Homo sapiens: one gene and its partners. The protein of the gene in region 3 interacts with the protein of the main gene of each other region in a pairwise test. Each region holds a gene or a part of one and is shown on either strand. Other genes may lie near its edges.

The links. The genes of interacting proteins can lie anywhere in the genome.
Region 1: the proteins of TAOK1 (region 3) and DYNC1I1 interact in a two-hybrid assay, tested with the Homo sapiens proteins (one large-scale study listed by BioGRID and IntAct).
Region 2: the proteins of TAOK1 (region 3) and WT1 interact in a two-hybrid assay, tested with the Homo sapiens proteins (one large-scale study listed by BioGRID and IntAct).

The regions. Positions count from the first base shown.
Region 1 is NC_000007.14:96,090,554-96,094,053, forward strand, and holds part of DYNC1I1 (cytoplasmic dynein 1 intermediate chain 1), read left to right. Parts: intron 1-3,500. UniProt on the Homo sapiens protein: Acts as one of several non-catalytic accessory components of the cytoplasmic dynein 1 complex that are thought to be involved in linking dynein to cargos and to adapter proteins that regulate dynein function.
Region 2 is NC_000011.10:32,411,540-32,415,039, forward strand, and holds part of WT1 (Wilms tumor protein), read right to left. Parts: intron 1-3,500. UniProt on the Homo sapiens protein: Transcription factor that plays an important role in cellular development and cell survival. Recognizes and binds to the DNA sequence 5'-GCG(T/G)GGGCG-3'. Regulates the expression of numerous target genes, including EPO.
Region 3 is NC_000017.11:29,396,863-29,400,362, reverse strand, and holds part of TAOK1 (serine/threonine-protein kinase TAO1), read right to left. Parts: intron 1-3,500. UniProt on the Homo sapiens protein: Serine/threonine-protein kinase involved in various processes such as p38/MAPK14 stress-activated MAPK cascade, DNA damage response and regulation of cytoskeleton stability. Phosphorylates MAP2K3, MAP2K6 and MARK2.

The DNA.
Region 1 (3,500 bases), on a different chromosome or scaffold from region 3:
AACCACTCCTTTAAAGATACAAGGGAAGAGACCTTTGGCAGAGAGGTCTGAAGCTTCATGGGTGGATGAGGGTTCCCTTAGATGGGATTTCCAGATGAAAAGAAATTAAAAAACAATCAAATACCATCTGACCACCATAGGTAAGAATGTTGCTTAATTTTACAGAAATTTGTACCTATTGACTGGTAATAGCAGACTGTGCTGTACAGAGACTAATGTAACTCCTACTTTGTCGACTTCTTTGAAACTGCTCTAAATAAGTTACATACCATATATCTTTTTGTGGTAGAACACTGTAGTATATTTACACCCTCTGTATATTGCATTCTAACTTGGAATTCTGGTCCGTGGTTTCATCCATTGTTAGCTGCGATGCTAGACTCTCCCGGGAGTTAAATACAGTGGGGCTGTATTTATGTGAAGCGGGTATGCTTGGTCGTTCAGTGGCTGTTTCATTGCATATTACCTCCCACTTTGCTCCCATCTGTGTGTGTGGTAAAGGGAATTGTCCTAAAAAATACAGGCTTCCTCTGAACACAGACATGTATTTGTATACCAGTAAGTCAACAATCTCCTGAATTTGGGTGCCATTAATAATTGTCCTTTTTAAAAGGCTTTTAGAGCTTAGAGGGGGTTAGCAGTCGTTCTGTGGAAACCGATGTACATTTCCACATTTTCTGTAAATGCATTAAAAAATAATGTGTATTAAAGTGAAAGGAAATCTGTAAGATATCTTTTTAACAGAAAACTTTAATTTTTAGATTAATACAGAGATGAATTGTCGTGTATCTCTTGGAAATCAATGGTTAACATGATAGTCTCACACACTTTTTAAAATTACTTCATCTAATTGAAAAATTACAAAGAGGCTGATGAGCCACACATCCATGGAATATTTATCTTGAAACCTAGAGTCCTACTCACTTAATGTCTTGGCCATACTTCATGTATCTGAGAAACCAACTGAAATCAGAGCGCTTTTCTAACGTCTTAATTATGCAAGATTTTAAAAAAAGAAAACTAAAGTAAGCAATACCTGAGACAGATATTTTTACTATGAAAAATATTGCACTGGGATGGTGAAAGTTACTGCAGATAATGCAGCTATTTAAAATTATTATAGCTGCAATTACTAAAAAATGAGGAAGGTTTGACTGAGAACTATTCAAAATAGTTATTAGCCATGTGATTATAAAAAGGAACACATGAATGATATTTGCATGTTTAACCCTGGTTATAAAAAGTCATTTGATTTTTTTAACAGCATGTACAGCAGTTACAAATCCTTACAACTTTAGGTAAAAATGAAGAATCCCACTGTGGAAAGTGCCACAAGGAAAGAGCTGGATTAGGATGTATTAGTCACATGTGAAAAATAAAAAATATGTATGTGCATGTCTACATATGTGTGTGGATGTGTATAGTTACAATAAATACTTATATTTTAAACTTGATTTTTAAACCAACAATGGAAAGTAGCAACTCTGAAAGAATTTTTCTTGTGATTTGAAAGAACTCTTTCCCTGTCCCCCGTTCATGAAAGTTAGCTATTATTAAAAGCCTGACTACTTAGGAAATTATTTGTGTGGGTATTTCAGACATAAAATGTGATAAAATATAAGGTATACTTCTAAAAAAAAAAGTACAGCTCTAAATAGGTGAAAAGAAGAAAGAGAATATGCAAGGAAGAAAGAAAATAAAAAAATTGGAAGAAAGGAATAAACATTAAGAAGGAAAAACAACATCATGTATTCAGGGTTTATAGTGTACAAGCACTGTGTTAAGCTTATTACATTTTTTTGTTTTATTTAATATACAGTCCTAGAAGATGGATCTTACAATTTGTTTCACACAAATGAGGAAGTAAAGATCAGAAGTGTTAAAACCATGCATTCCCTAAAGACACACAGCAAGTTAATGGCAAATCTGGGAAAGAAACCAGGATCTGGCTGGTGAAGCAGAAAAAAAGTCAACCCTGGCTCCATTCTCAAATGTTATTACTCCACAGTCTGTGCCTCCCTTTAGGTATACAGGACACCCAGGCAAGGCGAGCAAGGGTTAGACTGATAAGTTTTTCAGGGGTGAGGTGGGACCGGGTTCAGAGGCAGCCTCCAGTCCACTCAGGCAGAGAGGAGGGGACTGATCCCTGACATGGTCCGAGAAGTAGTGGGGTAGCCTGGGTGGTGGGGCTCTGGGAGGCTAAAATGATACATTTTCATGAATTTTTCCACAACTTTTGCACTTTTGCTTTTGCTTGTAGACTTTTTGTCTTCCAAGAATCTTAGAAGATTTAAAACAATCTTTACAATCTTTGAGCAGGTGATTCAAAACACATTACCTGCCTGCCCTTCTGTCATGGAATGCTGGCATTTCTCAAAGGGGTGAGTCTTGATTGCCCCACACTAACAGGTGAAGGTTATGTGGTCTTTAGCAAATCATTTAGCTCCCTATACTGTCCTCTCCTACCTGTTAAAGAAAGGTCTACGCCCTGCTTCTTAACATCCTCACATAACAATCAGAATTAATTCCCAAGGAAATTTTTTTAAAAAACAGAAAAATACTGTAAAATTGGTATGCATGCCACAAAACGTATCATTTTGGGGAGCTGTTCAATTTGACTGACAATTTAAAGAAAAAGAATGCATGACAATCCATGATGAACTCATAGTACTTTCTTTACTTTGATTACCTTTCTCATGCTCTCCACATCTCTGTTGATGAATGGGTCAGATATCATCATCCTTATTTTACAATTGAGGCAGTGAGAGGGTAAGTGCCTGACCGTTGCCAGCAACCAAGATAAGAACAGGACTTGAGTCTCCTGTCCAAATCTGAGGTTCATTTTACCTCTTTCTTATGTCCAAATTGCTACCTCAGTAACTACCTTTGCCCTTAGTTTCATTGGCTGTAAAAATGGGATTGTATCATATCTATAAAAGGTGATCTCTTTTAGAGTTAAGATTTTATTATCTCAGGAATCTGAGCCTCAAGTACTTTTGGCATGAAAATGCTTTATATGTTTAGCAAAAAATTAGAAAACAGTCATTGAATCAGGAGATGGACTGGCTGTTGGTGAACTCAGTCGATGAAGCAGTTGGAATATCTGAGTCATCCCTAACCTATGATGCAGACTTCATCAGAGATGAATCTGGAGGCAGAAAATGTTTCCAGATCCACATTGACTTAGAACAATGCTGGGAAATTTTTGAAGTTTTTTTTTTTAATGGTGTTCCCTTAATTGAACTATACATTTTTAATTGGTCAAAATAACTTATGATCTTTTTTCCTATCACAAACATAAATTGTTTGGAAATTATTCTAAGCTATTATTCTCAGAGAAAAAATCCATAGTGATACTCTAGATTTAGCCTTTATGCCTTAATAGAAACTTGAAGAGATGCTGAAGCAATGTTATTAACATGCCATTTGCCTCCCTGTTACTTGCTTGACACACAACAGATATCAGGAAATGTTACAGTTGTCACTGAAGGAAGGTAAAT
Region 2 (3,500 bases), on a different chromosome or scaffold from region 3:
AGGCTTTTGGGGGGAGTTTTAATTTCCTTCTCTGCGTAGTTGTATTTTCTAACTGTTCTATAATTTATACACATTACTTACATAATAAAAAAATTCAATACATTCATCAAATGCATGTCCAAAAATAAAAGGATAGAAAAGGCCAACAGCCAGGGAGGAGAAAGAAGAAGCAGAAAAGTGAGAAGCAAAGGAAAGAAGCTTCCGAATCAGTCCACACTAAGTGAGAGGGACACAGAGCTAAGTCACGAGTCTCCATCTTTATCAAACCCTGGAGTCCCATTCTTCGTTCTGGTTGGCAGGGTTAACAGACCTCAGGCCAAGTCCAATGCAAGGCAATAATAAAGAAAAAAAACTCTTTAAATGGCATTAAATGAAACTTTAAACGGTGGAAAATTAATAACTTGTTGCTGGGGGTGGAGATGGAGTAGGCTCGGCAATGCTGATATTCACAGAACTGAGGCTCCCCACCTTCACTTTGCATCTCAGGCTCCGGGAGCCACTTAAAAGCAAGCTATCTATTTCCAAGAAGTAAATCTCTTGGACGGATACCTTATGTTCACGAGCCCGCGAGGGAAGGTGCTGGGCTGTGTATTGGAGCTCCCAGCCAGAGAAGACAGCTATCTCTTTTGGCACAGGTTCTCAGGGATGAGACCATGTCTAGCGGGGATTTTCTCCAGATTCGACAGCCTTGGCCCTACCAAAACGCACAGCTTTGTTTTCACCACACATCACTCATTGTTGAGTCTTTTTTGTTTTTCCTCTCAAGCATCCACAGGTTGAATACTGTGTGTTCCCAACAGCCTGTGAACTTCTTGGACCAGCAAAGGGACATTCATTTTGCTGAGCACTCCTTTCACATTTCTATTGTGTTCGATTTCCCACTCCCCCTACCCGAGTCCCCAGAGAATAACTTCTTCCTTGTTTTAATAACTTGGATCACAGTCAAGGTTGATGTGTTTCTCCATTTTGCAGGATATTTTCTTCAGAAGAGACAAAACAGAGGCCAACAGGGTAGGAGAGGCTTGTTCGGAAATCAGCAGCCATTGAGAACACACAGAAAATGTTTTCAAAGAAATAGAAAGCAGATAACACAAGGCACCATCAATAGAAGGCTTCAAAATGGTGGACTCATACTCAGAAAGATTCCCCAGCAACGTTTTCTCCCAGGGACCCACTTTAAAAATCTAATTTCATTTGTTTGGGGGTGAGGGAGAAGAAAGTACTTTCCGTAAAGTACCTTCTCACTGACTTAAATTGAAATACATTCTCCCATTGGAGGTCATAAAAGTAGCTGTGATCCCAGTGGGTATGCAGAAATTAGAAAATGAGTAAAGGGAGAAGGAGGAGAAAGGAGCGGTTCAGTCACACAAGTATATCCCACCTCTAACACAGCAAGTTTTCATTTCATCTGCCCATGTTCTTTATAAAATCCTATCCCCACCCATTGTAACACTGCTCCCTGACATCTAATGAAAGATGTCTCCGTGGACTTGCTTGGGATACAAGGAAACAAACCTATTCTTTGTGAAGCCACTTTTTTGAAACGAAACATTTTCAAGGAAAGAAGACCCGAACCAGCATTTAGTGGGGTTTAGTCTGAGGTGCATGATCTTTTAATAAAAAATTGATAATGCCTCTTTTTTATGAGTGATATGGAAATTACATCTTTCTTCTCTAAAACATGAACCAAATCACCAGTTTTTCCTGTAATAGATCAACCTTGTCACATGATTTTTCTTAACATTGATTTCAAACAGTGTCAAGACACTAGTTATGAATGAACACAAAAAGTTATGTGTCTGAATTTGTCTTCATGGAATACCTTTTCTCAAATGTATTCTCCATATTAATACTTTTCATACCATGGCAAAAGAAAGTAAATCCAGTATCACAAAGAACAATGACCCCAACCCAGATTGGTCTCCCCTGGGGAAAGGCCAAACTTTCTACTGGAATTACAGATTCAACTAAATCCAGTTCTGGGCTGTTCATGAGTTTGGAGGAGACAGCCAAGGTGTCACCATGTTTGAATGCTAAAAGTGAGGCAAACTGTGGGTCATGACACATCAGTGGGTTGTAAAATCAATCTAGTACATCACAATCAGCATTTTAAAAAATGAAATAGGATAGAGAGAAAAAGTCAGCATGCAGAGCATGTCATAAGAGTATTGCTCAGTGAAAATCTATGTTGTGTGTGTGTATGTGTGTGCACATGTGTGTATATGGGATCTCACTGTAAAGGGTATTTCTAACTGTGGTCACAGTCTAAAAGGTTTCCACCCATTTAAGAAGCTCTAATCTAGGGCCCAGGTCCTGGAGTCAGACAGAACTGATTCCAACATGGCTCTGCCACTCACTTACTATGTGACCTTGGTTAGATAGCTTAATCTCTCCACCTCCTCAGCTAAAAAATTGGATGTGGCCATAGTGTCCTGGGGGTGTTGTAAGATCAGATCAGAAGAGGAAACATGTACAGCCCCTCACACGGCACCCAATACTGTTTATATACATCCTTAGATAAATGTCCAGTTCACAAAATGGAAGCGGAAATTCGTGGATTTACAGTATGTTCTACAGTGTGAGAGAAGATGGTAGGCAATTAGCTAATTGTAATTTTTGCTCTGCAAAACAGTTGTTCTTTTGTGGAACTATCTGTTGGGCCATCTAGCCCTTTTTATAACAGCTCCCTGAATAAAGTTAATATTCGAGAAATATACATATATATTGTGTTTGTTTGTTTTGTTTTGTTTTGTGGAAGGGTCTCACTCTATCGCCCAGGCTGGAATGCAGTGGCCTGATCTTGGCTCACTGCAACCTCCGCCTCCCAAGCTCAAGCAATCCGCCCACCTCAGCATTCCAAGTAGCTGGGGTTACAGGCATGTGCCACCACGTCTGGCTAATTTTTTTGTATTTTTTGTAGAGAAAGGTTTTCACCACATTGTCCAAGCTGATCTCAAACTCCTGAGCTCAAGTGATCCACCCACCTCAGCCTCCCAAAGTGCTGGGATTATAGGCGTGAGCCACCATGCCAGGCCAAGAAATACATTTTTAGTCAGGGCGCAGCAGCTCATACCTGTAATCTCAGCACTTTGGGAGGCCAAGTGTGGCGGATCGCCTGAGGTCAGGTGTTCAAGACCAGCCTGGCCAACATGGCGAAAACCTGTCTCTACCAAAAATACAAAAATTAACCAGGTATGGTGGCAGATGCCTGTAATCCCAGCTACTCAGGAGGCTGAGGCAGGAGAATCACTTGAACCCAGGAGGCAGAGGTTCCAGTGAGCCAAGATCGTGCCACTGCACTCCAGCCTGGGTGACAGAGTGGGACTCCATATCAAAAAAAAAAAAAAAAAGAAATACATTTTTATTTCAGAAATCCTTTCTAAGATGTAAGTAACGGACCAATGAAAACTCTTCTCATTTTTTTCTTATGTAGGATTGAACAGAACAAATTGTTCACACTTTGTGCTTCATCCTTATAATACAGCTTCTGCCTCCTCAGC
Region 3 (3,500 bases):
GCTGGAGTGCAATGGCGCGATCTCGGCTCATTGCAACCTCTGCCTGGTTCAAGTGATTCTCCTGCCTCAGCCTCCCAAGTAGCTGGGATTACAGGCGCCCACTACCACACCCAGCTAATTTTTGTGTTTTTAGTAAAGACGGGGTTTCACCACTTTGGCCAGGATGGTCTTGAACTCCTGACCTCAAGCAATCCACCCACCTCGGCCTCCCAAAGTGCTGAGATTACAGGCCTGAGCCACCACGCCCGGCCTGAAATGTCATTTCTTAAGACAGGCTTTATATCCAGCAAAGGAAAAAGAAAACCTGTGATAAATTAAAAACTCCCATCAGAGGTGGGCACAGTGGCTCCTGTGTATAATCTCACCACTTTGGGAGAACAAGGCAGAAGGATCACTTAAACTCAGAAGATCAAGACCAACCTGGGCAACATAGTGAGATCTCGTCTGTACTAAAAATAAAAAAAAATTAGCCAGGTGTGGTGGTGCACGCCTGTAGTCCTAGCTGCTGAGGTGGCTGAGGTGAGAGGATCGCTAAGTCCAGAAGATTGAGGCTGTAGTGAACTTTGATCTCACCACTGCACTCCAGCCTGAGTGACAGAGCGAGAATCTATCCCAAAGAAAGAAAAAAACTCCCATTAAGTACTACACAGTAGTCCATTATAGGTGCAAAAAGTTACTAAGCTACCTTGATATTCTAACTATTTCTTTCAAAAATGTATGTCAGACTCCAGATATATAAATCCAATATCACCAGGCGCAGTGGCTCACGCCTGTAATCCCAGCACTTTGGGAGGCCAAGGCGGGCAGATCACGAGGTCAGGAGATCAAGACCATCCTGGCTAACACGGTGAAACCCCGTCTCTAATAAAAATACAAAAATTTAGCCAGGCATAGTGGCGGGCGCCTGTAGTCCCAGCTACTTGGGAGGCTGAGGCAGGAGAATGGCATGAACAGGGCAGGCAGAGGTTGCAGCGAGCCGAGATTGTGCCACTGCACTCCATCCTGGGCAACAGAGCGAGACTCCGTCTCAAAATAAATAAATAAAAATAAATCCAATATCAAATCAAAATTATATAATGCAACTCATCCTTAAATATTAGACTCTCCCCAGCACTTTGGGAGGCTGAGGCAGGTGGAACCACTTGAGCTCAGGAGTTCGATACCAGACCAGGCAACATGGCAAAACCCCATCTCCACAAAAAATACAAAAATTAGCCAGGCAGTGGCATTTGCCTGTAGTCCTAGCTACTTGGAGGGCAAAGGTGGGTGGATCACTTGAGCCTGGGAGGTCAAGGCTGCAGGCAGCCGAGATCGTGCCACTGCACTCCAGTCTGGGTGACAGGAGTGAGACCCTGTCTCAAAAAAAAAAAAAAAAAAATTATCTCAATGTACTCATAAACATTTATATTAGGCAGCTAGTGTGTGATAGCCAACAATTTATTGAGTGTTAGCATGTATCAGGCAGTAAGTTAAGTACTTAGCAAGCATTATCCTATTTAAACAACCCAGTATATACTATCTTCACATTAACGGGTGTGGTGGCTCATGCCCGCCTGTAATCCCAGCACTTTGGGAGGCCAAGGTGGGTGGATCACCTGAGGTCAGGAGTTCAAGACCAGCCTGGCCAACATGGTGAAACCCTGTCTCTACTAAAAAAACAAAAACATTAGCCAGGCATGGTGGCACATGCCTATAATCCCAGCTACCCGGGAGGCTGAGGCAGGAGAATCACTTGAACCTGGGAGGCTGAGGTTGCAGTTAGCCGAGATCACGCCATTGCACTCCAGCCTGGGCAACAAGAGCAAAACTCCATCTCTAAAAAAGAAAAGAAAAGAGAAAAGAAAAGAAAAGAAAAGAAGCCTGGCGCAGTGGTTCACATCTGTAATCCCAACACTTTGGGAGGCCAAGGCAGGCGATCACCTGAGGTCACGAGTTCATGACCAGCCTGACCAACATGGAGAAACCCCGTCTCTACTAAAAATACAAAAAATTAGCTGGGCATGGTGGCGCATACCTGTAATCCCAGCTGTTGGGAGGCTGAGGCAGGAGAATCGCTTGAACCTGGGAGGCAGGGGTTGCAGTGAGCGAGATCATGCCATTGCACTCCAGCCTGGGCAACAAGAGCAAAATTCCGTCTCAAAAAAAAAGAAAAGAAAAGGTGAGGCATAAATAGTTAAATAAAGAAGTTACCACAGGCCTGGTACTGTGGCTCATGCCTGTAATCCCAGCTCTTTGGGATGCTGAGGAGGGAGGACTGCCTGAGCCCCCATGAGTTTGAGACCAGATTGGGCAACATAGAGACCCCGTTTCTCGAAAAAAACTTTAAAATAAGCCAAGTATGGTGGCATAGGCCTGCAGTCTCAGCTACTCACGGCTTCGGCCCTGAAGGTAGAGGCTGCTATGGGCCATGACTGTGCCACTGCACTCCCACCTGGGTGACACAGCAAGACCCCATCTCAAAAAAACAAAAACTGAAAAAGTTACACATTTACACTAGTAAATGGTGACATACATATATATATATACACATATATATACATGTATATACATATATACATACATGAATATACATATATACACACGAATATACATGTATACATATATACATACGTGTATATATACGTGTATATATGTATATACATACATGTATATTCATGTATGCATACATGAATATACATGTATACATGTATACATGTATCATACATGAATATACATATATACATGTATACATGTATATATATATATATATTTTTTTGGGGGGGGACGGAATCTCACTCTGTTGCCCAGGCTGGAGTGCAATGGCACGATCTCGGCTCACTGCAACCTCCGCCTGCTGAGTTCAAGCAACTCTCCTGCCTCAACTTCCTGAGTAGCTGAGACTACAGGTGCGCGCCACCATGCCCGGCTAATTTTTTGTATTTTTAGTAGAGACAGGGTTTCACCATGCTGGCCAGGCTGGTCTCGAACTCCTGACCTTGTGTTCTGCCCACCTTGGCCTCCCAAAGTGCTGAGATTACAGGCGTGAGCCACGGCACCCAGCCATTTTTTAACTTTTTTATTATTTTCTTGAGACAGAGTCTCACTCTGTCACCCAGGCTGGAATGCAGTGGCACGATCTTGGCTCACTGCAACCACTGCCTCCCAGGTTCAAATGATTCTCCTGCCTCAGCCTCCCGAGTAGCTGGGACTACAGACAAGTGCCACCACGCCCGGCTAATTTTTGTATTTTTAGTAGAGACGAGGTTTCGCCACGTTGGCCAGGCTCGTCTGCAACTCCTGACCTCAGGTGATCCACCCGCCTCAGCCTCCCAAAGTGCTGGGATTACAGGCGTGAGCCACCATGCCCAGCCCTTTTTTTTTTTTTTTTTTTTTGAGACAGAGTTGTACTCTGTTGCCCAGCTAGAGTGCAGTGGCACAATCTCAGCTCACTGCAACCACTACCTCCCAAGTTCCAGCGATTCTCCTGCCTCAGCCTCCCAAGTAGCTGGGATTACAGGCAC